Linked DNA regions of Homo sapiens: all the other regions are reported to be linked to region 1. The links are microRNA targets in miRTarBase. Many come from high-throughput screens and were not tested one by one. Region 1 holds a microRNA gene; each other region holds the end of a gene's coding sequence. Distances are between the middles of the regions.
What was found. Region 1 holds the annotated microRNA hsa-miR-939-3p (CCCUGGGCCUCUGCUCCCCAG, at 1,232-1,252, opposite strand). A microRNA usually pairs through its seed, bases 2 to 8, with sites in the 3' UTR of a target mRNA and lowers its output. Matches are read on the target gene's strand: a 7mer-m8 pairs with bases 2 to 8, a 7mer-A1 pairs with bases 2 to 7 and ends in A, and an 8mer does both.

Region 2: the mRNA of PLXNA3 is a reported target of hsa-miR-939-3p. Seed matches in the 3' UTR shown: 7mer-m8 at 1,098-1,104, 7mer-m8 at 2,348-2,354, 7mer-m8 at 2,677-2,683, 7mer-m8 at 3,301-3,307, 8mer at 3,812-3,819 and 7mer-m8 at 4,092-4,098.
Region 3: miRTarBase lists ZNF331 as a target of hsa-miR-939-3p. Seed matches in the 3' UTR shown: 7mer-m8 at 2,464-2,470.
Region 4: miRTarBase lists REEP4 as a target of hsa-miR-939-3p. Seed matches in the 3' UTR shown: 7mer-m8 at 783-789.
Region 5: the mRNA of QTRT2 is a reported target of hsa-miR-939-3p. Seed matches in the 3' UTR shown: 7mer-m8 at 1,897-1,903 and 7mer-m8 at 1,483-1,489.
Region 6: the mRNA of PHAX is a reported target of hsa-miR-939-3p. Seed matches in the 3' UTR shown: 8mer at 2,342-2,349, 7mer-A1 at 2,835-2,841 and 7mer-A1 at 3,009-3,015.
Region 7: the mRNA of GPAT4 is a reported target of hsa-miR-939-3p. Seed matches in the 3' UTR shown: 7mer-A1 at 1,368-1,374 and 7mer-A1 at 1,465-1,471.

What each region holds. Positions count from the first base shown.
Region 1 is chr8:144,392,930-144,397,040 of GRCh38, forward strand. It overlaps MIR939 (microRNA 939), which reads right to left and starts at 1,301; the gene lies at 1,220-1,301. CPSF1 (cleavage and polyadenylation specific factor 1) reads right to left here. Exons shown (of 38, transcript NM_013291.3): 24 at 3,911-4,000; 25 at 3,669-3,812; 26 at 3,419-3,571; 27 at 2,506-2,622; 28 at 2,336-2,426; 29 at 2,169-2,253; 30 at 1,953-2,094; 31 at 1,715-1,867; 32 at 1,450-1,626; 33 at 1,305-1,371; 34 at 1,184-1,231; 35 at 954-1,109; 36 at 738-867; 37 at 523-661; 1 more. The coding sequence ends at 389. ADCK5 (aarF domain containing kinase 5) reads left to right here. Exons shown (of 15, transcript NM_174922.5): 15 at 40-313. The coding sequence ends at 145. RefSeq lists silencers at 1,252-1,413, 2,766-2,979.
Region 2 is chrX:154,471,841-154,475,951 of GRCh38, forward strand. It overlaps PLXNA3 (plexin A3), which reads left to right. Exons shown (of 33, transcript NM_017514.5): 33 at 750-4,111. The coding sequence ends at 845. Among named protein-coding and RNA genes, the nearest start is that of LAGE3, 5.4 kb to the right of the region's middle. RefSeq lists an enhancer at 366-660.
Region 3 is chr19:53,577,199-53,581,309 of GRCh38, reverse strand. It overlaps ZNF331 (zinc finger protein 331), which reads right to left. Exons shown (of 6, transcript NM_001079906.2): 6 at 1,041-4,111. The coding sequence ends at 3,358. Among named protein-coding and RNA genes, the nearest start is that of ZNF331, 41 kb to the right of the region's middle. RefSeq lists an enhancer at 3,255-4,111.
Region 4 is chr8:22,134,954-22,139,064 of GRCh38, reverse strand. It overlaps REEP4 (receptor accessory protein 4), which reads left to right. Exons shown (of 8, transcript NM_025232.4): 6 at 4-139; 7 at 272-426; 8 at 513-1,045. The coding sequence ends at 578. Among named protein-coding and RNA genes, the nearest start is that of REEP4, 4.9 kb to the left of the region's middle.
Region 5 is chr3:114,085,210-114,089,320 of GRCh38, reverse strand. It overlaps QTRT2 (queuine tRNA-ribosyltransferase accessory subunit 2), which reads right to left. Exons shown (of 10, transcript NM_024638.4): 10 at 899-3,648. The coding sequence ends at 3,417. Among named protein-coding and RNA genes, the nearest start is that of QTRT2, 31 kb to the right of the region's middle.
Region 6 is chr5:126,623,825-126,627,935 of GRCh38, forward strand. PHAX (phosphorylated adaptor for RNA export) reads left to right here. Exons shown (of 5, transcript NM_032177.4): 5 at 751-3,428. The coding sequence ends at 1,020. Among named protein-coding and RNA genes, the nearest start is that of SPMIP10, 5.8 kb to the right of the region's middle. RefSeq lists a silencer at 979-1,179.
Region 7 is chr8:41,619,758-41,623,868 of GRCh38, forward strand. It overlaps GPAT4 (glycerol-3-phosphate acyltransferase 4), which reads left to right. Exons shown (of 13, transcript NM_178819.4): 13 at 1,136-4,111. The coding sequence ends at 1,244. Among named protein-coding and RNA genes, the nearest start is that of NKX6-3, 29 kb to the right of the region's middle. RefSeq lists an enhancer at 3,244-3,343.

The DNA.
Region 1 (4,111 bases):
CTCCCCACCCACCTGTGACCTGTGACCTGACCCACGCAGGCTGGAGACCTTGGCCATGCGGCTGACCGCCCTCCTGGCTCGTGCTCTGGTCCACCTGAGCCTCGTGCCCCCAGCGGAGGAGCTCTACCAGTACCTGGAGACCTAGGGTGCAGCCGCCCAGGGCCGGCGGGGCCCTTTTCACCTTGGGCTGACGGAGGTGGCGGGGCTAGAGGTGTAGACACCCCGAGCCCCGTGGGCACTCGCACTGGGGGGCTGTGACAGCAGCTGGGCCAGGAGGCCGTGTAATGACCACACACTCCTCTCAAGCAAAAAATGTTTTTCCTTGTGTTTTGTACAAAAAGGGGGTGGGAGGTAGTTCCGTGTGCTGGTGGTGACGGCATCCACGGGGCTAGAAGTGGGCGGTGACGCGGTCCGTCTCCAGCAAGTCGTCCAGGATCTGCAGGGGATGGAAGGGTGGGTGGGTGGGTGGGTGGGGATGCACACGGAGGGGCGGGGCGCGCGGGGGGCGGGGCGCGCACTCACTATGTCTGGTGTGGTGCCGATCTTCTTGGCTAGCTCGCTGCGCTCCATGGTGCTCAGGTACAGGTAGCGGTTGAGCAGCTCCCCATCCAGCACGTTGCGCACGGCATTCTGGAGGGTGCGGCGGTCCACGTGCAGCATCCTGGGGCGTACAGGCACAGGTGTCAGGGCAGGCTGGGGTGGAGGGGGTGCTGCACGGGGGCGGGGCCGGGGCTCACCGGAAGGCGCGGGGGTTGAGGCCGGCGTGGTGTGGCAGCATGGTGGTCAGCGCGTTCTGCAGCATCAGCAGCCGCCGGTAGGTCTTCTCCTGCATGGGCAGCAGCAGCCCGATGCCGCCGTCCAGGGTGGCTGGCAGGGGTAGGGTGAGGGTTTTGGTGTGAGCCAGGCCAACCCTAGGGCCCCCCACCCAGACACACCTGCTCCCCCACACTCACCAAACCACGTGATGTGCTTATTCTCCCACACGACCGACTTTTTGCTGAGCCCTTCAGTGGCCCCCCGGCACGGGGTCCTCCAGAACGTGTTCACGTGGGCACCCACGTGGAAGTCTGCCCGACGCAGCAGGCGCATGCCCCCGAAACTCTCCTTGGCTAGACCAGAAAGGCCTAGGGGTCACTGCTAGCCCAGCCCCGGCCCAGGCAGAGGGGGTGGAGGAAGCACTCACCTTCGGGCAGGTACATGTACACCATGAGGTTGCGGTCGCGGTCAGACACTGGGGAGCAGAGGCCCAGGGTCAGCCCCGGCCACCCCCAGAGCCTCAGCTCCCCAGGGCCCTGCCCACATACCCAGAAAACCCAGCTGGGCATTGTCCACCATGAAGTCCACGCTGTACACCTCCAGGGGCTTGGCATCCTGGGGGCGGGAAGGGGGCGTCAGAGGTGCCTTGGGCGGGTACCCACCCAGACACGAGCACCGCCGCCACAGGTGTACCCGCGACACCAGGCTCAGCGTCTTGCTTTCCTCCTGGTAGCGCAGCAGCGAAATGCTCTTCATGACGTCGGCTGCCAGGATGAAGTTCTTGACGCTGATCATCTGGTGTATGTAGAGCTGCGTGTCGATGAAGGCCATGCCCGTCAGCTCGCTGGCCCGCAGGCTCCACAGGAAAATCTGGGGGCGAGGGCGAGGGTGAGCGGGCGCGGACGGGGAGCCGGGTGAGGGTGAGCCGGGGGACACACGCCGGGTGGGACTGGCACACCTTCTGGCCGATGGCCGACACCAGGTGGCCATTGCAGTGGCACAGGGCGGTCACGGGCCCCTTCTGCTCCTTCTCGTAAAGGACTTTGAACTTGTTCTTGGTCAAGGGCTGGCCAGGCTCGGGCACCACCTCAATCACATCCATGATCAAGATCTGGAGGGCATGGGTATGGCTGTGGGATGGCTGTGGGGATGGCAGAGGGGCTGCCAGTTCCCGCCCCCGCTCACTGGCCCCTTACCCGCCCTCGGCACGTGACCTCCTCCCCCTGCATGAGGCAGGTCCCGGCGGCCACGTAGCCTTTGAGGCCCGACACGGTCTCCTCACTGCGCAGAGACACTGTCTTCATGCAGGTCACATGCTCCCACTCCTGCAGCTCGATCCTGTGGGGGCCAGGGGCCTCAGGATGCTGCCTGGAGGCCTTGGGCAGACCCCACCCCCGCCGGCCCAGCCTCACCTGGCATTGGGAATAGCCTCCCAGCTGACCGGGGAGATGAGCTGGATGGAGAAGGCCTCCTGCTGGGGGTGGATGTACCGCTCATCTGTGGGGACCAAGGGTGACAGTCAGAGTAGGGCTTCCCCAAGATGCGGCTGAGGATGGGAGTATGGTGTGGGCGTCACCACCTCTCTCGATGGTCTCAAACTCCTTCTCCTCGCCAGTCATGCGTGGGATGCGGGCACACGGCGTGTTGGTGCTGGTGGCCACAGCATACACCTGTGGGTTAGTGAGGGTCACACACCAGTGGCCCGGCCAGGCCCAGAAGGTCCCTGGTGGGGTGGGGGTGGGGGCAGACCTTAGACTCCACGTGGTAAGCCACATAGTGGGCCGTGCAGCGCAGCGGGATCTTCCTGACAGGCCATGGGGCATCATAGGACAGGTAGGCAGGCAGGACACTGATCCTCAGCTCGCCCTGGGGTGGGGGCACAGGGGTCAGGGGATCCAGGGCTAGCCAAGGGCAGGGGCAGGCAGGCCCAGGCCGCCAAGAGCCCTGGGATGTTGCCCTCAGCTCTGTGGGAGCAGGGGTGGGTGAGGGGCAGCTGTGTCCTGGCGAGGTCCTGGAAGGGGCTGCCACTCAGCCTCTGGGGCTCCTCCTGTCCATTTTCCCACGCTCAGCTGGGGCTAGGGGTGCTGGCCACAGGGGATGGGAAAGCTAGGCCAGGAGGGCACTGGAGGCTGCAAAGGGCAGCCCACAGACTGCCATGCTGGGGACTGAAAACCAGGCAGAGGGAGCCAGGGCTGCCCTCTTTCATGGACAGTCCTGAGTCCTCAGGCACCCAGGAAGCACTCACCGCATCCCAGGCAGGGTCTCAAGTGACCTGGTGGTGTGGTGGCTTAAATAGGGAACCAGGATGAGAAAGCCTGTGTGCCCTCCCAAAGTCACAGAGCAGCCAAGGGGCAGAGCTAGCACTCACGTCAGCTCTCCTGAGAAGTGTGGAGGCCAGGCCCTGCGAGGGCTTGCCCGGCGAGCCGGCAGAGCAGTGGTGGGGACCCCAGGGGCTGCAGCCCCAGCTCCCAACCACCCCTTTCCAGACCTTTGGAGCAACCAAGTCACAGGTTCCACCTCCTCGACCTCAACCCCATCGCCCTCTGGACACTCCTTCCTGGTCCTCAGGGTGGAGCCAATGGTCCCTTCTCCTGTCCCCTCCCCCTCAGCCCCCAGCTGGGGCAGCATCAGCCAGTGCTGCTGGGAACCGGCCGGGCCCCACCTGTCTGTTGAAGTACAGGAAGCCGCGGGGACAGTTGACATTGTGGAATGGAGCGAAAGAGTCGACCGGGCCGTCGATGGCCATGGGGTGTAGCCGCAGAGCCCCTCGGCCGGTCACCAAGAGCCAGTGAGGGGAGGGGCCGCAGATGAAGACCTGGGGGCAGGCACCGTGAGGATGCTGTGGATGAGGATGCTGCGGATGAGGCCGCGTCTCCCTTCTACCACAGACCCCTGCAAAGGCGCTGGCCTACCCCTGAGTAGCCATAAATATCCTCGAAGTAGCGGAAACGCGCCACGCGGCCCCGGGCCCCAGCCCCCTCCTCTGCGCCGCCACCTTCTGCTTTCTTCTTGGATGGCTTTGGCTTCTTCTCACGGAAGTTGATGTTGTGAGGGACCTGGGGGGGAACCATGCAGGTCCTCCAGGGGCTGCCGGTCTGAAACCCACACCTTGTACCACACCCACCCCACGCCCCAGCAGTCCAGCCACTGGCACCTTCTTAAAGCGGACTTTGAGATTGCCCTGGCCGAGCTGAGAGTCGTGGGGGAAGGCCTCGTAGATAAGCAGCTCTTGGTCCACATGCACCTGGCAGGATGAGGGGAGCCATGGGGGAACGGGCAGGGCCATGGAGAACATGGGATGGGCCATGGGAAGAGGTGGGCTGTGGGTAAGGGGCGGGGCTGAGATGGGGTGGAG
Region 2 (4,111 bases), not on the chromosome of region 1:
CAAAGTGGCCACTGGGCAAAAGTTAAAGGGCCTGAGCACTGGAAGGGATGGGTCAGGCTTTGTGATGAGAAATAGCCAGAGGCAGGAGGACATAGAGGTGTGGACTTTAGGATGGAGTCTGGGCTGGACACATTTGCAAGCCTGTGGATGGCATTTAAAGCCCTGAGCCTGGATGAGCTCACAGGGAAGCCACAAGTGGGTGTGGAGGGAGAAGCGGCCCAAACACTGAGCCCAGGGCCCCAGGACACAAAGAGGGGAGGGGAGGGGAGGTGCAGCAGCCAGCGGGGAGGATGCCTGAGAGCGCCTGGTGGGGTCTGGCAACCTGAGCCAGTGAGGACCCCTCACAGGTCAGGGAGTGGCAGTGGCCGGCTCCATCTTCCAGTGCTGCTGCTGGTGAAGGATGGTGACCTGCAGAACACTCACTGGGTCTGGCGAGGGTCACGGGGTCCTGGCGCGAGGGAGGCTTGGGCTAGGAGGTAATGGGAGGGGGAATCCAGCACGGCGAGTCCAGAGTCCAGGTCACTCTAGGGACAGGCCGCACCCTAGCTGTGGAGAGGAGGAGGAGAAAGTGCTGTCGTCGGAGGGGCATTTGGGGCTGGGGAGAGCTGGTGGGTTTGTACAGGGGCTGCGGGGGAGGACGGAGGGATGAGGCGTGTGGGAGGGAGGAGCCCAGCTGGGAAGTGGGGACTTTGCATGGCAGGAGCTGCGCCCCCTACAGAGCCCAGCTCCAGGGGACTCCTCTCCCCCAGATTCTCACGGCTCTGGACCGAGATGCCTCTTGTCGGAAGCATAAGTTGCGGCAGAAACTGGAACAGATCATCAGCCTCGTGTCCAGCGACAGCTAAGGTGGTGGAATCGGTGAGGAGGGGGCTTCTCAGTCCTGTGCCGTCCTCCCATCCAGGGGAGTGGCTGGCTCAAGCCTGGGTCCCCGGGCTGAGCCCTGGATTGGGTATCGTGGGGCAGGTCACCCTGGCCACGATGCCCCCGGCACACCCAGGCCCCCTTCATTAGTGCCTTGCTTTGGGCCCTGCAGGGGGAGGGGTGACAGGGCGAGCCCCCACCCCAGCAGCAGCAATACCCCCACCCTCCTGCCCTGTGCCCAGGTGTTGGGACAGTCCCACCCTCCCTGCTATTTATATCCCTCTGCCTATTTATTGAATCGAACTTCGCCTCTGTCTCCATCTGTAAATATGTGTCCCCCCACCGGATGTCGCCACCCTCACTCACCTGCCTCTTCTTGAGCTGTCCTGGGCCCTGCCACCCGTCTGGGCTCCTTTGTGTAGCATTATCAGCCTCGGTCTGGCCTCTGGCACCTCACCCTTGCCATGGCTGACCCCACCCATTCCAAGGCGGGGTCACGGTACCAGCAGCACTTGGGGTGAGGCCTCCAAAGCTTCCTCAGAATTGTGGCTGTGCCACGCTGGACCACAGGGTCCCCCTCAAGCATCTCGGGGCCCTATTCTCTCTGAGCACCTGGAGGGCTGGACTCAGGCTTGTGCCAGGGCCTGACTTGGGCCTGGGGGCCCTAGAACGCTCCTCCTCCTGAGCCTACTGCCAAACGTCCTCAGTGTTGTCTGCACCTGCTCCGACTCCTTCAGCCGCCCCATTCAGCGCCCGCTCCGTCCAGTGCCCGCCCTGTGGGGCCAAGGCGGCCGTGCCTTACTACTCTGTGTCTTCTGCCTCCTCTGAGGAATCTGGCCCTGTCTGACAGTCCCAGACCCCCCGTTCTCTCCTCTTTAGTTGCATGAGTTTTTCTTTGTTCATGGAATGTTTTTTCCTGATTAAATGTTGGGGAAATGCCATCCATGTGGGGCTCTGTCCTTGGGGCAGGTCAGTAGACCTGTGGATGCTGCATGAGCTGGAGCCCCATTGTGGGAGAAAGGACCACTCCTTGCAGGGTCCCAGAGGGTTTGGGGAGGTTCAGGGCCATACCCGACCCATCAGCAAACCCCGGTGGCTCTACCTTCAAGACAGATTCAAGGTAGATAGATTCTCCTCCCTTCCACCACCCCCACCCAGCTCTCCTGTGCCATCGTCTATCTCTGCCTGGATGCCAGTCTCCCTGCTTCTGCCCTGGCTCTCTTCAGCCTGTTCTCAGCGTGGGAGGCAGAGAGATCCTGTTATGATATAAGGTGGATCATGTTGCCTCACTGTTTAGAACCCTCCGGCGGTTTCAGCTGCAGCCAGCTCCTTCAAAACCTGACAATTGCATACTGTCGAGGTTGTGGCACCCATCATGGTGCACCTACCAAAGTCTTACTCCCAGGCCTGTTAAGTAATGCAGGTGGGGAGAAGGTGACATGCAATTTATTTATTTATTTATTTTGAGACAGAGTGTAGCTGTGTTGCCCAGGCTGGAGTGCAGTGGCAAGATCACAGCTCAGTGCAGTCTCAAACTCCTGGGCTCAAGTGATCCTCCCACCTCAGCCTCCTGAATAGCTGGGTGTATTAGTGCACTCTACTATGCCAGGCTTTTTTTTTTTTTTTTTTTGAGATAGGTTGCCGCTATGTTGTTCAGGCTGGTCTTGAATTCCTGGTCTCAAGTGATCCTCACCCCTCAGCCTCCCAAAGTATTGGGATTACAGGCATGAGCCACTGTGCCCGGCCAGGTGAGATGGAATCTTATTTTTACTTTTTATGTTTTTTTTTTTTTCTTTGACGGAGTGTCGCTCTGTCGCCCAGGCTGGAGTGCAGTGGCATGATCTCGGCTCACTGCAAGCTCCGCCTCCCAGGTTCACGCCATTCTCCTGCCTCAGCCTCCCGAATAGCTGGAACTACAGGTGCCCACCACCACGCCCGGCTAATTTTTTGTATTTTTAGTAGAGACGGGGTTTTACTGTGTTAGCCAGGATGGTCTCGATCTCCTGACCTCGTGATCCACCTGCCTCAGCCTCCCAAAGTGCTGGGATTACAGGCGTGAGCCACCATGCCTGACCTTTTTTTTTTTTTTTTTTTTTTTTTTTTTTGGAGACGGGATCTTGCCCTGTTGCCCACGCTGGAGTGCAGTGGCAAAATCAACTCACTGCAGCCTTGATGTCCTGGGCTCAAGTGATCTTCCTGCCTCAGCCTTCTGAGTAGCTAGGATTACAAGTGCTTGCCACCATACCCAGCTGTTTTTTGTTTTTTTTTTTTTTCTTTAGTAGAGATGGAGTCTTGCTGGTTTTGAACCTCCTGGGCTCAAGTGATCCTCCTGTTTTGGCCTCCCAAAATTCTGGGATTACAGTTGTGAGCCACTGTGCCCAGCCAAGTGAGATGCAATTTTTTTTTTTTTTTTTTTTGAGACAGAGTTTCACTCTTGTTGCCCAGGCTGGAGTGCAATGGTATGATCTTGGCTCACCGCAACCTCCGCCTCCCGGGTTCAAGTGATTCTCCTGCCTCAGCCTCCTGAGTAGCTGAGATTACAGGCATGTGCCACCACGCCCAGCTAATTTTGTATTTTTAGTAGACACAGGGTTTCTCCATGTTGGTCAGGCTGGTCTCGAGCTCCCGACCTCAGGTGATCCGCCCGCCTCAGCCTCCCAAAGTGCTGGGATTACAGGCATGAGCCACTGTTCCTGGCCTTTCTTCTTTTTTTGTTTTTGTTTTTTTTTGAGATGCAATTTTAAATAGGGTGGCTTGGACAGCCACCTGAGTTGGGTTTAAAAGCTGCCAGCTCCAGCCGTCCAGCTGTGGGGCCACGGTGCCAGACAGTGGTGGTGGTTATAGGACCGTAGGTGTTTACCAAAACTAGACAAGTCCACATAACAACCAACTGCACAAATAAGGAGTAAAATAATAAAGAGAAGGACGTGTGAGGCAGGACTGGATTGTAGCCCAGGATAAAGAGAAGTTGCGGGATGACAGCTGTGCCGTCGGCCCAGACAGAACCATCTGGACAGAGGACAGAGGATAAGGGAGATGGTTGAAAATACTACCATCATATGATAATGACAACTAAGCCACAGGAAAACAAGGCAGTTTTAACCTCAGGGGAAATCCCTCAGAAATGGATGGAATCTACCAGAAGCATCATGAGAGGAAGAGGAAGGGAAACAGAGCTAAATTGGGGCCAGGTGTGGTGGCTCGCACTTGTCATCCCAGCACTTTTGGAGGCCCAGGCGGGAAGATCACT
Region 3 (4,111 bases), not on the chromosome of region 1:
CCCTCAGCCTAGGACCATCTTAAGATAGTTCAGGTCTCTCCCCTGAGTCTGTGTCCGCACCTCCCCCAGGACTCTGTCAGAGGTGTTTGAACCAGAGCGACTCCATTTTGAGTGCGGGCTAGGAAAATGAGGCTGAGACTTGCTGGGCTGCATTCTGAGAAATGTAGGCAATTCCGAGCCTCCAGATGTTTACGGTTAAGGGAACAAATTATTAACAGTTACTAAACAGACCCACACTTGGGAGTGTCCAGATATCCTGATATCTGGAGAACAAAGGCATTCCTAGTTTTGCTTTAAAGATAATATCAATTCTTGCAAAATAATGAAGAGAATGAATCCTTCATCACAAACCCTTGTAGCAGAGCACGTCTCCCCATATATGTGAGCATTGGACCTAGGGTGGATGCGTTCCTCCTAACGTCAGGAGCGTCCAACACTGTCTGTGGAGTAGCTGTCCTTTCGCCACTTTTTCTGTTTTTGAGATGGAGCCTCCCTCTGTCGCCCAGGCTGGAGTGCAGTGGTGTGATCTCAGCTCACTGCAACCTCTGCCTCCCGGGTTCAAGTGATTCTCCTGGCTCAGCCTCTCGAGTAGCTGGACTGCAGATGTGTGCCCACACACCTGGCTAATTTTGTATTTATAGTAGAGATGGGGTCTTGCCATGTTGGCCAGGCTGGTCTTGAACTCCCGACCTCAGGTGATCTACCCACCTCGGCCTCCCAAAGTGCTGGGATTACAGGCGTGAGCCACCGCACCTGGTCCCACCACTTTACTTTCTTAATAAAGTTGCTTTTGCTTTGCACTGAGGACTTGTCCTGAATTCTTTCTTGTGTGAGATCCAAGAACTCTCTCCTGGGGTCTGGATTGGCACCCCTTTCCTGTAACAACTCTACTCTGGGCCCTGACCCCGTCCCCAGGACCAGTCCGCTCACCTCCCTCCCGCGCTGTCCCTGCTGTGGGCACCGCTAGGGTTTAGCAGAGGTCCAGTCTGCTGGCGGGGTTCCTTCTTGAATAGGTCGTGTTTGAATATCCAACAAAGAGACCTGCTCATCTTTGATTTTATTAATATTTGATTGACAAATAATAATTGTATTATATTGATGGAGTACAATGTGATGTTCTGATACATGTATACAATGTGGAAGGATTAAATCAAGCTAATTAACATATCCATCACCTCGCTCCCTTATCCTCCTTCTTTGTGGTGAGACATCTGAAATCAGCCTTGTTATTGTGATTTAAATTTAATCATCCTGGTGACTGTCTAGAGTGACAGCACATTGTGGTTTTACTCTACAGTTCCTTGAGGAGCAATGACATTGAATACATTTTCACTTACTTATTGGCCATTTGGTGGTCTTCTGTTGAGACGTGCTGAAGTTTTCTCCCCTTTAAATTGATTTTTTTTTCAACTTGAGGGATTCTTTATATTTTCTATGAGAGTTCCTTTGTCAGGTGTACCTTAGAGCAAACATCTTCTTCCAGTCCTGTTTCTTGTCTTTTCCCTATCTTAACAGCATCATTTGATGAACAGAACTTTGTACTTTTGATGAAGTGTAACAACTTTTTATGTTTGCTGTGTTTTGTGTACTAAGAAATCATTGCGTAACCCACGGCTGTGCCAATAATCTCTTAATGTTTTCTTCTAGAAGACTCAATGGTCTTTTCCAGACTCATTGCACCCACAGGGAGTTTTCTTGTAAAAATTCACTAATGGCAACACAAATGGTAGTAATGATCATAAAAACAACAATAGTTATTATTTATTAAAATTACACAATATTCCAGTTACACTTTCAAAGACTTTACATGTACCAAACATTTAATTTCCATGATAGCAGTCTCAGGTAGATGTGATTATCCTTATGTACAAATAATGCACATAGTGTCTGTGTGCTGGACAACGCACAGGGGTAGTGAGCCTTTGGCCCAGTGTCTCACAGGGAGGAGGGCGGGGGATGGTGGGGACAACTGGTAGAGTGGGTGGCATGACCAAAGGCTTTCTCACGTGTTACATTAGCAGGGTTATTCCACAGATGCCACGGAGTAAAGACAGAATGGTACTGGTAGTCTTTATGTATTCATTAAACTAACCCACACAATAAAAACATCTACACCAAAAACAAGATCATTCAGAAAAAGTGATTTTTCCACTCTTCAAATTTGCCTCTAGAATGACTTCTGATATTCTGTAAGCAGAAGAGTGATCAGTGGGCTAGGTGCAGTGGCTCACGCCTGTAATCCTAGCACTTTGGGAGGGCAAGGTGGGTGGATCACCTGAGGTCAGGAGTTGAGACCAGCCTGGACAACATGGTGAAAACTGTCTCTACTAAAAATACAAAAATTAGCCAGGTGTGGTGGTGCATGTCTGTAATCCCAGCTACTGGGGAGGCTGAGGCAGGAGAATTGCTGGAACCTGGGAGGTGGAGGTTGCAGTGAGCCAAGACCGTGCCACTGCACTCCAGCCTGGGCAAGAGTGAGACTCTGTCTCAAAAAAACAAAAACAAAAACAAAAACAACAGTGATCAGTGAAGCCTTACGTTAAACTGTACCAGGAATTTTCCTCCTGTTGAGGAAGGAATGGATGTAGTCTAGAGGCCTTCCTATATTCTTTGTACAGCAGTCCCCTCTCACCTGAGGGGGGTACGTTTGAAGACCCGCAGTGGACACCTGAAACCACAGATAGTACGTTTTTTTCCTGTACATATATACGATACTATATACTACATTTTTTCCTGTACATACATATCTAAAGTTTAATTTATAAATTAGGCACAGTAAGAGATTACCAACAGTAACTAACAAAATAGAACAATTGTAACAATATATGTAATAAAATTATGTGAACGTATCTCTCTCCCAAAATATCTTATTGTCATGTAGATCTTAGCAACCTCAGTATATGATTTTTTTCTTTTCTTTTTTAAGTTGAGAACTTTCACCTTTTCATTTAAAAGGAAGCACTTTGTGGCTTCTCTTTGGCATATCCGAATCACCAGCATCACTACTCCTGCTCTCTGGGGCCACTGTTAAGCAAAGTGAGGACTGCTTGGGCACAGGCACTGTGATGCTGGGATAGTTGATCTGATCACCAAGACGGCTACTAAGTCACTAGCAGGGTGGGTGGCGTATACAGCGTGGATGTGCTGGACCAAGGGATGACTCACATCCCCGGCCGGCTGGAGCCGGACAGCGAGAGATTTCATCACGCTACTCAGAAGGGCACACCATTTGAGACTTAAAATTCTTTATTTCTGGAATTTTCCATTTAATATTTTTGAACTGCAGTTGACTGCAGGTAACAAACTGTGGAAAGCGAAACCATAGATACGAGCGGGCTACTGCGTTCAAAAGGCTCTTCAACTGTTGTGGATCCTCTGATGTTCTCGGAGATGGTTTAGGTGGTTACATGCCTTCCCGCACTCCTTACATTCGTAGGATTTCGCCCCACTGTGCGTTTTCTGATGTTGTGTAAGCTGATGGCCGTGACTAAAGCTCTTCCCACATTCTGTACACCCATAGGGTTTCACCCCGGTATGAATTCTCTCATGTTTCACGAGGCTCGATCCATAAATGAAAGCCTTCCCACACTCCTTACATTTATACGGGGTTTCGCCTGTGTGGATTCTCTCGTGCTGAGTGAGGTGATAGCCACAATTGAAGGCCTTCCCACATTCTGTGCACTTGTACGGCTTCTCGCCCGTATGTATCCTCTCGTGCTTAACGAGGCTCGAACCCCAGCGAAAGGCCTTCCCACACTCCTTACATTCGTGAGGCTTCTCACCGGTGTGGATCTTCTGATGCTGAGTAAGGTAATTGACTCGAGTAAAGGCCTTCCCACATTCTTGACATTCATAGGGTTTCTCACCTGTGTGAATTCTTTTATGCTGAATGAGGCTTGAACCACAAATAAAAGCCTTCCCACAGTCTTTACACTCGTAAGGCTTCTCCCCACTATGAATTCTCTTGTGCTGAATAAGTTTATACACACGGCTAAAGGTCTTCCCACAGTCTTTGCATTCGTAGTCTTTCTCCCCAGTGTGGAATCTCTGGTGCTGAGTGAGCTCATCACCACGCCGAAAGGCCTTTCCACAGTCTTTACATTCATAGGGT
Region 4 (4,111 bases), 120 Mb from region 1:
CAGAGTCAGGGGGCGCTGGCCGGCAGGCTGCGGAGCTTCTCCATGCAGGACCTGCGCTCCATCTCTGACGCACCTGCCCCTGCCTACCATGACCCCCTCTACCTGGAGGACCAGGTGTCCCACCGGAGGCCACCCATTGGTGAGCGGGCAGAGGGGCCCAGAGCCATGCCAGGAGGGATGGCTTCCTTCACTCACACCATGGCTTCCCCCAAGGCTCGAGGAAGGGCTGGCCTGGTCGCAGGCTTTCAGCTTCACCTCCTCCTCCACACAGGGTACCGGGCCGGGGGCCTGCAGGACAGCGACACCGAGGATGAGTGTTGGTCAGATACTGAGGCAGTCCCCCGGGCGCCAGCCCGGCCCCGAGAGAAGCCCCTAATCCGCAGCCAGAGCCTGCGTGTGGTCAAGAGGAAGCCACCGGTGCGGGAGGTCAGTGTGGGAGGACGACAGGAGGGAGGAGGGCTCTGCTGGCTGGTGCTCCCCACACCCTCATGCTGTGCCTCCCCTTTCCCCAGGGCACCTCGCGCTCCCTGAAGGTTCGGACGAGGAAAAAGACTGTGCCCTCAGACGTGGACAGCTAGGGTCTGCTGCATCTGCCCCCTTCTTACCTCGTGCCCTGCAGGGCTCCAGGGCTATTTGGAGGGACCTTGGGCTGCACATCTGGCCTGCCTGCACCAGCTGCCTGGGCCCCACCCTCCTGACTCCTGCTGATGGTTAAGGGCCGGGAGCAGATGCTGCCAAGGCCACATGCAGGGATGCACCCACAATGTACCAAAGCAGGCTGGGCCCAGGGTTCTATTTATTGCCTTGCTCTGCCCTCTCCCTTCCCCGGTTGTGGGACAAGAGCCCTCCCTGAACCCCTGCAACCCTCCCTGAACCCCTGCAAATGAAACCAAACGTCCACCTGGGTGTGTTCATTCCTTCCTGTCCTTCAAAGTACTTGATAGCCTTTCATAAGGCCTGGCACATGTGTCCTGGTTGTGTGTGTGTGTGTTGGTGAGTGAGGTCAGGTTTGCGAGTGTTTTGATAAATAAATACATAAAGGGGCTCTGTTTCTCCTGATTCTTACTCCCGTTGCTCGCCTCACACCCTTGAAATGGGACAGCCCAGTCCTAGCCTAGGTCTAAGGCTGAAGGAGCCCAGTCCTCTGGGGGAGACAGAACCATTGACAGAGAGTTGTGATGCAGCACATGGTTTCACGAAGGAGCTTTTGGGGAGTTTTGAGAGCACTGATGGGAAAGTGGGGACGAGTCCAGAGGACTGGTCAGAACCCGAAACTTCAGTTAGGCCTTGGCAGGAAGGTGCAGCTATAGAGAAACCAGTGGGAGCACAGGCAGGAGGGGCTTGGGGCAGCACGTTAGTCCCATAGGGAGGTCGAAGCTAGGCAGAGGAGACCTGGGGAGGAGTATCTCCTCCAGGAGCCTGGAAGAAGGAGCCCCCTGGGGCAGCTCTGGGGACATTAAGTTCTGTAAACAGTCAGGTACCCGCAGGGGCACCATTGCACCTCTGAGGAGTGGCCACGAGAGGGCAGCAGTGTCTGGGATCTGGGCTGCCCCCGGCTTCCAGGTCAAGGAGGGTGGGGTTGGGAGACTGGCCAGAGCCTCGCCCTGCTGGGCCTGGCGGAACTCAGTGGCCCTCCCTGCTGCTTGTGGTCACTGGTCCTTGGCCTGCCCCATCCAAGGAGTCTCTGCTCTCCTGAGACCAAGGCTGTTTGCCTGGCTGGCTCCACTCCAACTCCTCCGATCCCTGGGGCAACCGGGGTACCCAGCTCTGCCCTCTACTGCCCCGGTGCTGGTCTCACCATGATGCCCGGGGTGCGCCCCTCTGCCACTGCTGCACCTGCTCCTCCTCCCTGCTTTTGATTGATTAAGCAAAGAGGTGGGTGAGAGTGTGGGATGAGAAGAGGGGAAATGGGGTGGTAACCTGGAGTGGCCCCAGAGAGTGTGGATTAACTCTTGGTGTGGGGATTATCCAGGTTTTATTTGGGGGAGGCTCTTAATCTGCTGCGGTGATTTAGCTTCTCACGTATAGGGGCTCACTGGCGTCCAACATGGCCTGCCTTTGCATCGTGGGGTTGTCTTATCGCTTCATTAATTCATTCAAAAATGAATCTTTATTGAGCCTCGAGCAGGTACCAGACATGTTGCCAGACACTGCAGGGATGCAGGCAGTAGTAACGGCTGGCGCCCAGAGTGTGGCTGCCCACGCAGACGCTGCTCTAAGCCCCTGGCATATATTAATTTAATTCTCATAACGATCTTTGGGGGGTGGGTACACACTAGTCTTACAGTCTCCATTTTCCAAACAGGAAAACAGGCACAGAGAGGGCAAGTGATTTGCCCAAGGTCACATAGCTAGTACATAGCAGAAGGGCTTGGAATCAGGCAGTCTGGCTCCAGAGTCTGTGCACTTAATCACTAAGCAGTACCAGAGTGAAGGAGATGATTCCTGCCTGGGAGGCAAGGACATGGAGACTAACATGTATGGAATATTTGTTGTGTGCCTGACCTTGTGCTGGGCATTTTACAGAGATGATTTCCTTGAATCCTCCCAACAAGCCTGTCAAATAGGGACTATATCCATTTTTTAAAACAGGTTCTCACTGAATCACCCATGCTAGAATACAGTGGAATGATCATAGTACACTGCAGCCTCGAACTCCCGGACTTAAGGGATCCTCCCACCTCAGCCTCCTGAGTAGCTTGGACTGCGGGCACTCTCCATCACACCTGGCTAATTACCATATTTTTTTGGTAAAGACGGGGTCTCACTATGTTGCCCAAGCTGTTCTTGAATTCTGGGGCTCAAGTGATCCATCTGCCTTGAACTCTGAAAGTGCTGGGATTACAGGCATGAGCCACTGCACCCACAGGGCTATACCCATTTTACAGATGAAAAACCGAGGCTTGGAGAGCCACAACAACTTGTGTACCATTGTGCTGCTTGTGAGTCGGGGACCCTGACTCCTGATGCACCTCTGCCTGGGAGTTGCGTTGATAGAGGCGGGCTGGCAGGATCCATGTACCCAAACCAAGAGAACAAAACCAGAGGGGCGCCGGGCACAGTGGCTCACCCTTGTAATCCCAGCACTTTGGGAGGCTGAGGCGGATGGATCACCTGAGGTCAGGAGTTCGAGACCAGCTGGCCAACATGGTGAAAACCTGTCTCTACTAAAAAAAACAAAAATTAGCCGGGCATGGTGGCGCGTGCCTGTAATCCAAGCTACTTGGGAGGCTGAGGCACAAGAATCGCTTGAGCCCGGGAGGCAGATGTTGCAGTGAGCCGAGATTGCACCACTGCACTCTAGCCTGGGTGACATAGCAAGACTCCATCTCCAGAAAAAAAAAAAAAATAACAAACCCAGAAGGGCATATGATGAATGGCAAAACAAAACGGAGTAAAAGAAAACAAGAGTTGGGGAGAGGCCTGAAGTCGTGGGGTGGTGAGGGAGATTTCACTGGGGTGGGGGCTTCACTTGCCCTCCCTCCTAGGATGGGTGCTTGGAGGGGGCCACACGGCCACCCAGGCCCCTTGGCAGAGCTTGCGATGCCTTGTCCTCACCATCTCATCAGACTGTCTCATGGCTCCGTGTGGCCCTATGCGTGCTGGCCTCTGACATGCTCTTCCTCCACCATCCAACTCTGTCCCATTTCTACTTGCCCTTTGAACCCCACTGAGACATCACCTCCACTGGAAGCCCTCCGCAAGCACTCCCTCACCTCGGAGTGGTTTGCTGTCTGGACCACACCACCTCTGTTCTTGCACAGACTTCTGTTGTTGCCTTGAGCATGTGACCTTTTCTCCCCCACTGTGTTGTGACTTCATAAAGGACAGACGTATTTTACACACTGTTGTAGCTCAGCCTGGAACAAATGGTCTAACCGAAGTGAAATACTTTTGTAACTTCGCGACTGGGTGGTGAAGTCCTGATCTCATTCTCTGATCTCCTCCATGAAGTTCCCCTGACTTCCCCAGGGTGGGACTAGAAGCATCTTGTAATCATTCATGAACAAGCCCAACACCCCCAGCGCCCAGCACAGGGCCAATACCTAAGAAGCCTGGAGGAGTTTTGCTGGTGAAAGAACAAATGCGTGAAGTGACCATATGTTCTGGG
Region 5 (4,111 bases), not on the chromosome of region 1:
AAATTAAGAATTTATTTAGTACAGTGGATAACTGTGGAGCTAGAGTCTACCTGGGAGCTGAGTAGTGGTAGGCCCTTAGGCAAACTATTTCTTTCCTGAAATATCTGGTAGGCACTCAGGCAGGCTACTCAACCCTCTTAAAATTCAGTTCTTAAATAGCTGGCTTCAGCTTTTCCTGTAGGGAATAACTAGCACTAGCACATATAGCCCATAGGACAATAGCAACACCTCACAGCCATGCTCTAACAGTCAATAGTTATATATGAAAAGCATTTACCAAGATGCCTGGCACATTTAAAATACTCCATATTGTGATTATTATTTTTATTATGTGCTAGCATGGCCTTAAGGCTCATAATTACATAACTTAAAGAGGTAAGTGATATGGCTTGGATGTTTGTCCCCTCCAAATCTCATGGTGAAATGTAATCCCCAGTGTTGAAGGTGGGGCCTGGTGGGAGGTATCTGGGTACACCCCTCATGAATGGCTTAACACTATCTCCTTGGTGATGAGTGCATTCTCCCTCAGTTCACATGAGATCTGGTTGTTTGAGTCTGGGACCTCCTCATTCTCTCACCATGTGATACACCAGCTTCCCCTTTGCCTGCCACCACAATTGTAAGCTTCCTGAAGCCCTCACCAGGAGCAGATGCTGGTGCCATGCTTCCTATACAGCCTGTAGAACTGTAAGCCAACTAAACCTCTTTCCCTTATAAATTACCCAGCCTCTGGTATTTCTTTATAGAAACACAAGAACAGATTAATAAAGATAGATAAGGGAATCTTCATAATGTATATAATTAAATATCTTTTTGGATTTTACATTTATCATGGAAGCTCTCAAAACAATGAATACAGATAAACATTTTTTTCTTCCAATGAGAAATCTCTACAACATTTCTGGTACTATGGAAATTTAATATTTTGTTTAACAGACCTACTACATTTACAGAAAGCCAAACACAGTAAATTTTTAAAATTAAAAATGTTTTATTGGCTATTGCCTTTAATAGATTTACTACAATAAAGGAAAGGAATATTTTTCTCAAATGTGCTAATAAGAAAAAGACCCAGGAAACTGAACGATATTGGACACAGTTTTCAGTGTTTTAGACATAAATAAACTCATGAATTTCATATGGATTCTGGAATATTTACCACTACTCCCCTAACGATGCATTTAGCATAGAACAAAAATATGAACATTTGAACAAGTCCAATCTAACACATTTCAAAACAATCAGATCTTTGGAAAACTGTTTTCCATAAGTACCCCTTGCCATTCATGGAAGAGTTATGAGGATGCCCATGAATTTATTCATGGACACTCCCATACTAAGAAAAAGAAAACCATGTAGATGGGTAATATAATTTGACTATTTGTTCCCGCCCAAACCTCAAGTTGAAATGTAATCCCCAATACTGGAGGTGGGGCCTGGTGGGAGGTGTTTGGAGCACAAAGGTGGATCCCTCATGAATGGCCTGGGCCATCCCCTTGGTGATAAGTGACTTCTTGCTCTGAGTCTTGTTCCTGCTTTTGTCATGTGATGTGCCTGCTCCCCCTTCACCTTCTGTCATGACTATAAGCTTCCGGAGGCCTCCCCAGAAACCAAGCAGATGCCAGTACCATGCTTCCTGTAAAGCCTGCAGAGCCATGAGCCAATTAAACCTCTTTTCTTTACAGATTACCCAGTCTTGTGGATCATGAGGTCAGGAGATCGAGACCATCCTGGCTCATACGGTGAAACCCCATCTCTACTAAAAATATAAAAAATTAGCCAGGCATGGTGGCGGGCGCCTGTAGTCCCAGCTACTCGGGAGGCTGAGGCAGGAGAATGGCATGAACCCAGGAGGTGGAGGTTGCATAGAGCCGAGATCGCGCCACTGCACTCCAGCCTGGGCGACAGAGCAAGGCTCCGTCTCAAAAAAAACCCCAAAAAACCAAAAAACCAAATTACCCAGTCTCAGGTATTTCTTTATAGCAATCCAAGAACGGCCTAATACAATGGGCTCCCAACACATAAAACATACAGCAGCCACAAAATAATTAGAAACAATGTTAAGTAATGCCCACTAAATTTTGAATAGCAAAATATAGCATAGAAGTATAAAACAAATGTATTTCTTATCCCTACAAAAAAAGGGGCATCTTTTTGGTTTTGTTATTGCTGTTTGTATAAAAACTATGGTGTGTGCATGTGGGTGTATGTGTATTCCTTATAGAAAACTTGAAAAATACAGAGGTAACTTAGAAAGAATTACCTTCCCCTACCAGCCTCAGGATCTCCTGATACCAATTCAATAACCACTTAAAAACCCACAGGCCAAACCTCTCTTTAGGCTCTCAAATATCTCTACTGTTGCCTGTCTCCCAGGATGACAACTAGGGCTATTAAGGCTATGACTCTAATCTAAAACTTTTTGTTCTTCCAATTTTAGAGCTAGACAGTATCTTAAAAGTTCATTCATTCCTATCCATTATGCCTGTCCCTATTTATTCAGCAGGAAGCAGCCATGGAGAAGTTAAGTGAATTGCCCAGGAGTCATATCTGAGCAGGATGGAGACTAACCCTCTAATCGTTAGGCCAGGCAGGGCTCTGTCCAAGTGAACACATTGAGAATGAATCTTCACAAGAGATAGGTCTTCAGTTATTACGTAGTTAGACTATTAATGAGCCTGGAAGGCAGACCACAATGGATCTGTACAACCAGAAGAAAGCAGCTGGGCAAACTTCTGGCTCCTAACAGGCAATTACATTGGCTCTAAAAAGAAGTTGCAAATAGGCCATGTGGTCAAATGAAGGAGTGTGACCTGGGACAGATGATCATCACAGGAGCAATGTTCAAGCCCCACATTCCAGGGATATCCAAGCCCAGTTAAGTCACAAGAGCCATTTCTGATTGGCTGCACTGCCAGGGCAGGGTGGAAGACAAAAGTATCCAGAAGAGTCTCCTGAGAGTATGAGGGTGAACTAAAGGAAACCCTCAAACCAGCCAGATTTCTTCTCAAATCAACAGGCATATGTCCAGAGCCCATTCGTCTCACACCATTTCCCCTCAAGCCTCAATCCAATTCATGGGTCCCTCAGAATCTCATCACTCCCACTTCAAGGCTGTGCCCTCACAGTTAAAGCTTTTGTCTTTGACTAAATGAATCTCTATCAACTAAAAGAATTAGTCTAGAAGTCTTAAAGGTCACAGTTCAATTCTCTCTGATCAATCCAGGTCATTTAAGTCTTTTGAGGAAATCTCTTCACCCTCATGTGGGCAGTTTGGTACAAAGATTCTTTATTTAAGCAGACCTTATATCCAAATATAAATAATTAAAGCTCAGATTATTTCTTCTTCACGTCTTCCCATGTTACAACAGTGGTACAGGCTCAGTGTGAAGAGTGAGACTTGTATTTGCAAGATCTCAAGATGCTTGCCTGTGGATGAGCTCTTTCAACTGTGCCAGTTTGTCACTTTTTAGTGCTTCCCGGATGTAATGGAAAAACCCAAAGTAGTGTTCAAAGTTGTGCATCATAAGCAGGACTCCGGCCAGCAGCTCATTGGTCACCAGCAGATGGTGGATGTATGCCCGAGTGTGATTCTTACAGCAGTAACAGGAACATCCTCTCACCAGCGGGTTAAAGTCCTCCTGGTACCTAAGAAAGAAGTCACAGTGACATTCCAGAAAGTACGGAATACAAGAAATCCACAACCTCAGCTATCTATTCTGCTGGTAAAGTTACCAGTGGTTAATAACATCACTGGCAAATGTTCAGTGCTGTGCACCTGCTTAAAATGGCAATATGGTTAAAAGTTAACAAAGGGCCGGGTGTGGTGGCTCATGCCTGTAATCCCAGCATTTTGGGAGGCCGGGGCAGGCGGATCACGAGGTCAGGAGTTCAAGACCAGCCTGGCCAATATGGCGAAACCCCGTCTGTACTAAAAATACAAAAATTAGCCAGGCATGGTGGCGCGTGCCTGTAGTCCCAGCTACTCGGGAGGCTGAGGCAGGAGAATCGCTTGAACCCAGGGGGCAGAGGTTGTGGTGAGCCAAGATCGCACCACTGCACTCCAGCCTGGGCAACAGAGCGAGACTCCATCTCAAAAAAGAAAAAAAAA
Region 6 (4,111 bases), not on the chromosome of region 1:
TGGCTTGAGCTTTTTGGAATCCCTGCCCAGGAGATAATAGGGTCCCAGAAGTGTGTCCTGCCTACACTAGCTTCTTTTTTAAACCTTTGAACCGTCTCTGTTTTAGTACAGGTTGACAATCCCTAATCTGAAAATCCAAAATGCTCCAAAACTTTTTGACTTTTTGTTTTGGTTTGGTTTTGGGTTTTTTTTTTTTTTTTTTGAGACACAGTCTCGCTCTGCTGCCCAGGCTGGAGTGCAGTGGCACAGTCTCGGCTCACTGCAACCTCTGTCTCCTGGGTTCAAATGATCCTCCTGCCTCAGCCTCCCTAGTAGCTGAGACTACAGGTGTGTGCCACCACAGCCGGCTACTTTTTGTATTTTTAGGAGAGACAGGGTTTCACCATGTTGGCCAGGCTGGTCTGCAACTCCTGACCTCAAGTGAACCACCCACCTCCGCCTCCCAAAGTGCTGGGATTACAGGCATGAGTCACCATGCCCAGCCTTCATTTAGGAAATTTTTAACTGTAGAGATGATACATTAAGGTAGAATAAGCATGGGCCCTAAACCTAACACTAGGCTGGGTTTAAATCAGTTTCAATCTTGCAATGAGTACTTACTTAATATCTTGAACTCCATCTTAATAATGAGCCTAATAATACTTGTATTTTTTGTAAGAAATGGAGATAATGATTTTAAAGGGACAGTCATGGAATAAACCTTTAATAACGTGGTAGTTCTTGTTTACTAACTTTGTTCCTTTATTACAGGACATTTTCTACATTGAAAACCAAAAGGAATATGAAAATAAAAAAGCTGCTAGGAAGAGGAGAACACAAGTGTTGGGGAAAAAGATGAAACAAGCTATTAAAAGTCTAAATTTTCAAGAAGATGATGATACATCACGAGAAACTTTTGCAAGTGACACGAATGAGGCCTTGGCCTCTCTTGATGAGTCACAGGAAGGACATGCAGAAGCCAAGTTGGAGGCAGAGGAAGCCATTGAAGTTGATCATTCTCATGATTTGGACATCTTTTAAGTACATTTTCAACAGTTTGAGGACTAAGCCTTTCTAAAATAACATTGTAATAAACCATTTTTACTGAGATTGCAACGTTTTGCACTGATAAACATGAGAATCTGGAGGAAAGACAATTGTTTTCTTGTTTAAAATATGTGTGGAAAGGAATGCAATTGATAGAACATTTAAAGATATATCTGACAAAATACTTAAGAGTATATAGCACAGGATTTAATTTCTCAATCTGTTGCATGTGCTAATTATGAGTATTACTAGTTGATAATCAGTTTTGTCTAGGTCATAACATACCATTTGTAAGTTTGTTTGCTTTTTCAGGTTTATCTTTGCAGTGAATTATGCTTTGCTTTAAAACATTCCGCTAAAATCATAATGGGACATATAAATTATTAAGCTGTTAGAAATGCATTCAAATTTGTTTTTTCTGTGTTCTAAGAACTCAGGCAATTTTAAGGATAAAAACTAACATTGGCCAGGCACGGTGGCTCACGCCTGTAATCCCAACACTTTAGGAGACCAAGGCGGGCAGATCACTTGAGGTCAGAAGTTTGAGACCAGCCAGGCCAACATGGTGAAACTTCATCTCTACTAAAAATACAAAAACTAGCCAGGTGTGGTTCTCCATGCCTATAATCCCGGCTACTCGGGAGGCTGAGGCAGGAGAATCACCTGAACCCGGGAGGCAAAGGTTGCAGTGAGCTGAGATCGTACCACTGTACTCCAGCCTGGGCGACAGAGCAAGACTCTGTCTCAAAAAAAAAAAAAAATACAATTAAGAGGTGTATACTGATGATTCTTCCCACTCATTTGTTTGTCCAGAAGTAAATAAATGTCGGAAGTTTTCCAAGTAACTATTTGTTTTTTGGGGGGTTTTTTAGTTAGAGTCTTGATCTGTCACCCAGGCTGGAGTACAGTGGCAGGATCTCAGCTTACTGCAGCTTCCATCTCCCAGGTTCAAGCGATCATGTGCCTAAGCCTCCTGAGTAGCTGGGATCACAGGTGTGTACCACCACGCCCAGCTGATTTTTGTATTTTTAGTAAAGACTTTCGCCATGTTGTCCAGGCTGGTCTCGAACTCCTGGCCTAATGATCTGCCCACCTCTGCCTCCCAAAGTGCTGGGATCACAGGCATGAGCCACCGAACCCAGCCTTATTCTGCTTAAATTTAACGTGTTTTTTGACTTCTTAATTAACTTGGTCATATACTAAATGTGATCTCCTGTGGATTACCACATGCATTAAAAAATTTTTCAAGCTGGGCCTAGTGGCGCACACCTGCAATCCCAACACTTTGGGAGGCCAAGAGAGGAAGATTGCTTGAGCCCAGGAGTTTGAGACCAATCTAGGCAATGTAGTGAGACCCTGTCTCTAATTTAAAAAAGAAAAAGAAAAAAACATTCCCAGTGGCAGCCTGCCTAAGACTGTCTTACCTTATGTTAAGGAAGTCAGGTATTTAAAATGTTACATATGCCGGCGCAGTGGCTCATGTGTGTAATCCCAGCACTCTGGGAGGCTGAGACAGGTAGATCATTTGAGGTCAGGAGTTCAAAACCAACCTGGTCTACATGGTGAAACCCCATCTCAACTAAAAATACAAAAAATACAAAAAATTAGCCGGGCGCGGTGGCTCACACCTGTAATCCCAGCACTTTGGGAGGTGGAGGCGGGTGGATCACAAGGTCAAGAGATCGAGACCATCCTGGCCAACATGGTGAAACCCTGTCTCTATTAAAAATACAAAAATTAGCTGGGCGTGGTGGCGCATGCCTGTAGTCCCAACTACTAGGGAGGCTGAGGCAGGAGAATCACTTGAACCCAGGAGGTGGAGGTTGCAGTGAGCCGAGATCACGCCACTGCACTCCAGCCTGGCGACAGAGCGAGACTCCCTCTCAAAAAAAAAAAAAAAAATACAAAAAATTAGCCGGGCATTGTGGTGCATGCCTGTAATCTCAGCTATTTGGGAGGCCGAGGCAGGAGAATCACTTGAACCCAGGAGGCAGAGGTTGCAGTGAGTCGAGATCGTGCCACTGCACTCCAGCCTGGGTGACAGAGCAAGACTTTGTCTCAAAAATAATAATAGTAAAATGTTACATGTGCATGAAGTTTTAAATTACTCATTTTTATTAATGAAGAAAATAAGGTAGTTTAGACATTCCAAGAGTTAACTATAGTTTACAAAAATATATTAAGCAAAAATATGCTTGATATATTAAGCAGAAATGTTGTATATTAAGCAAAAATGTAAAATTCAGCAATTATAAACTGTTCCTTACAGACAGTGTACTTGAAGTCTTTTGGTAGTTCTGAGAATGTGGTCATTGAAGTTGGATCTAAGAGGAAAGTGGTTATCGGTTGCTTTTTATTTATAAAGGATGCAAAAATAAAATTAGATTTTTGGCAGTCCTTAATGAGCTTCAAGTGATTATATTTTTAAATCTTGAATGTTTTTTCATAAAAATGCTATAGCCAAGAAAAATATTTTTAAAAGGTAATTGGATATTGACCCTAAGACAATTTATGGGAGGTGATTTTAGAAATAGTACATTAAGAAAGATAATTATTCTGAATACTTAAATGCCACATATTAATGTAAATATTGCCAATTTTTCTAGCAAAAGTTATGCCTTTTAAAGGGCGTTGATGCCTGAAGCTACTTTATCTTCATCAAGATTGTTTCTTCCCCACACCTTCCTGGTTTTTTAGCAATAGTTGTTTTTTTTTTTCTTTTTCTTTTTTTTTAAGACGGAGTTTTCACTTTTGTTGCCTAGGCTGGAATGCAATGGCACCATCTCAGCTCACTGCAACCTCCGCCTCCCGAGTTCAAGCGATTCTCCTGCTTCAGCCTCCCAAGTGGCTGGGATTACAAGCACACGCCACCACACCCAGCTAATTTTTTTGTATTTTTAGTAGAGACAGGGTTTCACCATGTTGGCCAGGCTGGTCTCAAACTCCTGACCTCAGGTGATCCACCTGCCTCAGCCTCCCAAAGTGTTGGGATTACAGGCATGAGCTACCACGCCCAGCCAATAGTTGTTTCTTTAACATTTGGAAACCACTCAGATTTCTGGCTTGTGTTGCATCCTACTGCCAT
Region 7 (4,111 bases), 100 Mb from region 1:
GAGAAAAGAAAGGGTAGAAATTCACATTGTAAACCCAACTGTAGAGTCTCAGGGAATAGATTGGCTCTCAGATGATGGCCTTTTAAAAAATGCTAGTGTGGATTGTGCACTCACTGTGTGCCAGTCACTGAGCTGCTGGGGCCCTGTGTGATCGTCTCTTTCGCCCTCACAGTAGCCGCAGCGCTGTAAACAGTGTTCCCATTTTGCAGATGAGAAACTGAGACTCAAATCACTTTTTTCCAAAGTCATAACATTAGCACTGGAGCTAGATTTTGAACCCACATCTCACAGACTTTTAGAGCTTGAAGGTTTAACTTCTGCCCCATGTTCCCATCTCTGAAGTTTAACAAAGACAGAGTGGCTGCTTTTAAAATCTATGCCTTTGCTATGGATTTTAAAGGGTGTAGCGGAGAGACTGAAAGCGGGCTTGGATTTTTATAAGTTGTTGAAGGTGGTGATAATTCTAGAGTGTAGGCACGGAGGGGGCCAGCAGGCAAGAGGCAATGGGACTGTAATGAAACAATCCCAAGTCTGGTGGGTTGGTTTGGGGCTGCTGCAGGGAGGCACGGGGGCAGTGAGGCTGGAACTCTGAGAGGCAGCCCCGGAGGTAAACCTCCATTCCTGACGGCACTCTTTTTTTGAGCATGGAAGAAGTCAGAACACGCGTTACCCCTTGTGTTAGCTCTCTGCATGAGTTCAGAGTATCCCTGGGTCTGAATTAAACAAATGACATTTTACAGATAGATTTTACAGATACGTTATGAGTCGATATTTCTTAAAGCATGTCTACCTTCCATAATGCCAGAATTCCTCCTTTTCCTTTGTGAGGTGAAGATGAATGTTAGAGTAGAAAGAATTGTAAACTCCTTGGTAGGTTTAAGCAGTTATCAAGTACCTTGAATGTGAGTAGTAAATTCTCACCCAAGGGCAAGGGTAGACCTTTTGAGATAGAAAGGGTGGATATTGGGATCCCGGAGCCCCAAATCCCCTGAGGTTGTCTTGGTGAGAGTGCCACGGGGTACCCTGTTTCTGGCAGGTTTTTCTTGGTGTTTGGGCAGCATGGTGCATCTCCCATGGTGTGAGCGTGGCTGGGAGCCCTCTTGGCTGTTACTACATCCAGCCTTTGTCTCTCCAGGGATGGGGGCCTGAAGAGGGAGAAGGTGAAGGACACGTTCAAGGAGGAGCAGCAGAAGCTGTACAGCAAGATGATCGTGGGGAACCACAAGGACAGGAGCCGCTCCTGAGCCTGCCTCCAGCTGGCTGGGGCCACCGTGCGGGGTGCCAACGGGCTCAGAGCTGGAGTTGCCGCCGCCGCCCCCACTGCTGTGTCCTTTCCAGACTCCAGGGCTCCCCGGGCTGCTCTGGATCCCAGGACTCCGGCTTTCGCCGAGCCGCAGCGGGATCCCTGTGCACCCGGCGCAGCCTACCCTTGGTGGTCTAAACGGATGCTGCTGGGTGTTGCGACCCAGGACGAGATGCCTTGTTTCTTTTACAATAAGTCGTTGGAGGAATGCCATTAAAGTGAACTCCCCACCTTTGCACGCTGTGCGGGCTGAGTGGTTGGGGAGATGTGGCCATGGTCTTGTGCTAGAGATGGCGGTACAAGAGTCTGTTATGCAAGCCCGTGTGCCAGGGATGTGCTGGGGGCGGCCACCCGCTCTCCAGGAAAGGCACAGCTGAGGCACTGTGGCTGGCTTCGGCCTCAACATCGCCCCCAGCCTTGGAGCTCTGCAGACATGATAGGAAGGAAACTGTCATCTGCAGGGGCTTTCAGCAAAATGAAGGGTTAGATTTTTATGCTGCTGCTGATGGGGTTACTAAAGGGAGGGGAAGAGGCCAGGTGGGCCGCTGACTGGGCCATGGGGAGAACGTGTGTTCGTACTCCAGGCTAACCCTGAACTCCCCATGTGATGCGCGCTTTGTTGAATGTGTGTCTCGGTTTCCCCATCTGTAATATGAGTCGGGGGGAATGGTGGTGATTCCTACCTCACAGGGCTGTTGTGGGGATTAAAGTGCTGCGGGTGAGTGAAGGACACATCACGTTCAGTGTTTCAAGTACAGGCCCACAAAACGGGGCACGGCAGGCCTGAGCTCAGAGCTGCTGCACTGGGCTTTGGATTTGTTCTTGTGAGTAAATAAAACTGGCTGGTGAATGAACTGGGGGACTTCTCCCTTTACTTTCTCCCCTGGCTGTGGCCCTGAGTAGCAGGCTTCTCGTGAGGATTCCCGTTCTCTTCTGGGAGCATGGCCCTGGGGCTGCGGAGAAGCCAACTGACTGCTGGAGCGAGGAACCCTGCAGCTCAGAAGGTGAACAGCTCGTCTCAGATGCTTGCAGATCTTTGGTTAATTTAGAATTTCCAGCACAGACGTGGATTTCTCCAGAGACGGGGTGTGTGCGGGTCGCTGATGTGAGGCCTAGGGGAAGCAATGAGTAAACTCCAGGGTGGGGGAGGAGCAAGGGCCCGGGGAGGGCTGCAGAGGGGCCGGGGCGGGGCAGGGCCTGTGCTGCATGGTGGCTTCTGCAGGGGAGGGACAGGGGAGGGCTGCAGAGGGGCAGGGTGGGCAGGGCATGTGCTGCATGGCAGCTTCTGCACAGCCAGAGCAGGCACCACAGGAAAAGAGTCGGCCACTGGTGCCTGCTGTACAGTCACAGTGGAGGCAGAGCCAAGGCCAAGCAGCCCCTGTGGGTTCTGGGGTTTCACCAGTTTCATGCTCCTCAGCTCCCCATTCATGCCCCACCAGCCCTCACTTGGGACCCATGCTCCCTCGTGGCACAGTCATGATGCCTCTCAGGATTTTGTGCCTGTGGTGCTGAGTGTCACGTCCCCAAGGTCGCCCTCTGGCCTGCAGTTCAGGGAGTGGGTGGGAGTGAAGCTGTGCTCCTGGGGCTGCAGACAGATCCACTTTGCATGTGGTACCTGCTGGGTTGGCCCTGCAATCTCCTTTTCTCTGCACCTACCTGTGACCTCCCTGGGAGAGCCTCCCATTTCCTCACCTGCCCTGTTGCCAGCCCGGGGGAAATCTTTTTGCTCTCAAATGAAGACTGAAAAAATAAAGTCAGTGTTATGACTAATAAGTCTCTTAGGAACTGTTTTACAAAATGCTTAAGAATAAAAAGTGATTTTCAGCTTTTATAGGTGATGTTTACAGTGTTTGTAAACCAACTGGAGGGATCAGTAATTGGTCTTAAAAGATCAGGTTCTCTTTTAAAAAGTTCATCTGAAACTTTATGGTTTGTTACTTTCGTGATTTGCATAGGTATTTATATATACACACACACACAGGTTTTGCTTTTGTCTCACATTCAGCACAGCTGTCTGCGGCCCCTGCCGGCAGGTGTGGCCGCACCTGGTGTGAAGTCACGTGGAGTCAGTGCTGTGGAGGGAAGTCCTGTGCGGGCCGGGCAGTGAGGAGAGCACTGATTCACGCCTGCAGAAACGTAACCTCCCCTTTCCGTGTATGCCTTTTACCATCATCCAGGCGACTGCTCCATCCTTTTAAATTAGGGGTCCTGCAAGCCCCAAGTGACCCATAGTCAGAGTATCTGGTTTGGGGTAACCGAGTTGGTCTTATGGGGCAAAAACTCAAGACACTTAGAAACATGCAAAGTACAAAATAATGTGTTCCCTCCTGTTACCCCAGCAAGGGTGGGGCTGAGCTGGGAATGACACCCAGTGGTGTAATGAGTGGAAAGTGCTGGTCAGCTGCTAACCCCCCTCCAAGCCTGCTGCACCTTCACTTCTCTGCATCCGTCTCCTGAGTCATAACTAGGGACTTGGCTAGATGACCTCAGAGACCTCGTCCACCTCTGAATTCTCTGTTTTTAAGCCCATAGTTCAAACTTTGGCTTTGATCTCTGAAGTCTTCTGGGTTTGGAAATACGGGAAGTCAGCTTTGAATCCATTGCTTCTCTAAAACATCAGGGCTAGTGGAACTAACCCACTTGAGGGTGACCTCAAGGGCTTTAGGCAGCCATGGGGCTGGGGCCATACTGCTCTCAGGCTGGGCAGTATCTTCATTGTGGTTCTCAGACAGCCTTTTTTACTCAAACATGAGACTTTCCACCCACCAGTTAGGGAACTTTTTTTTTTTTTTTAAACACGGAGTTTCA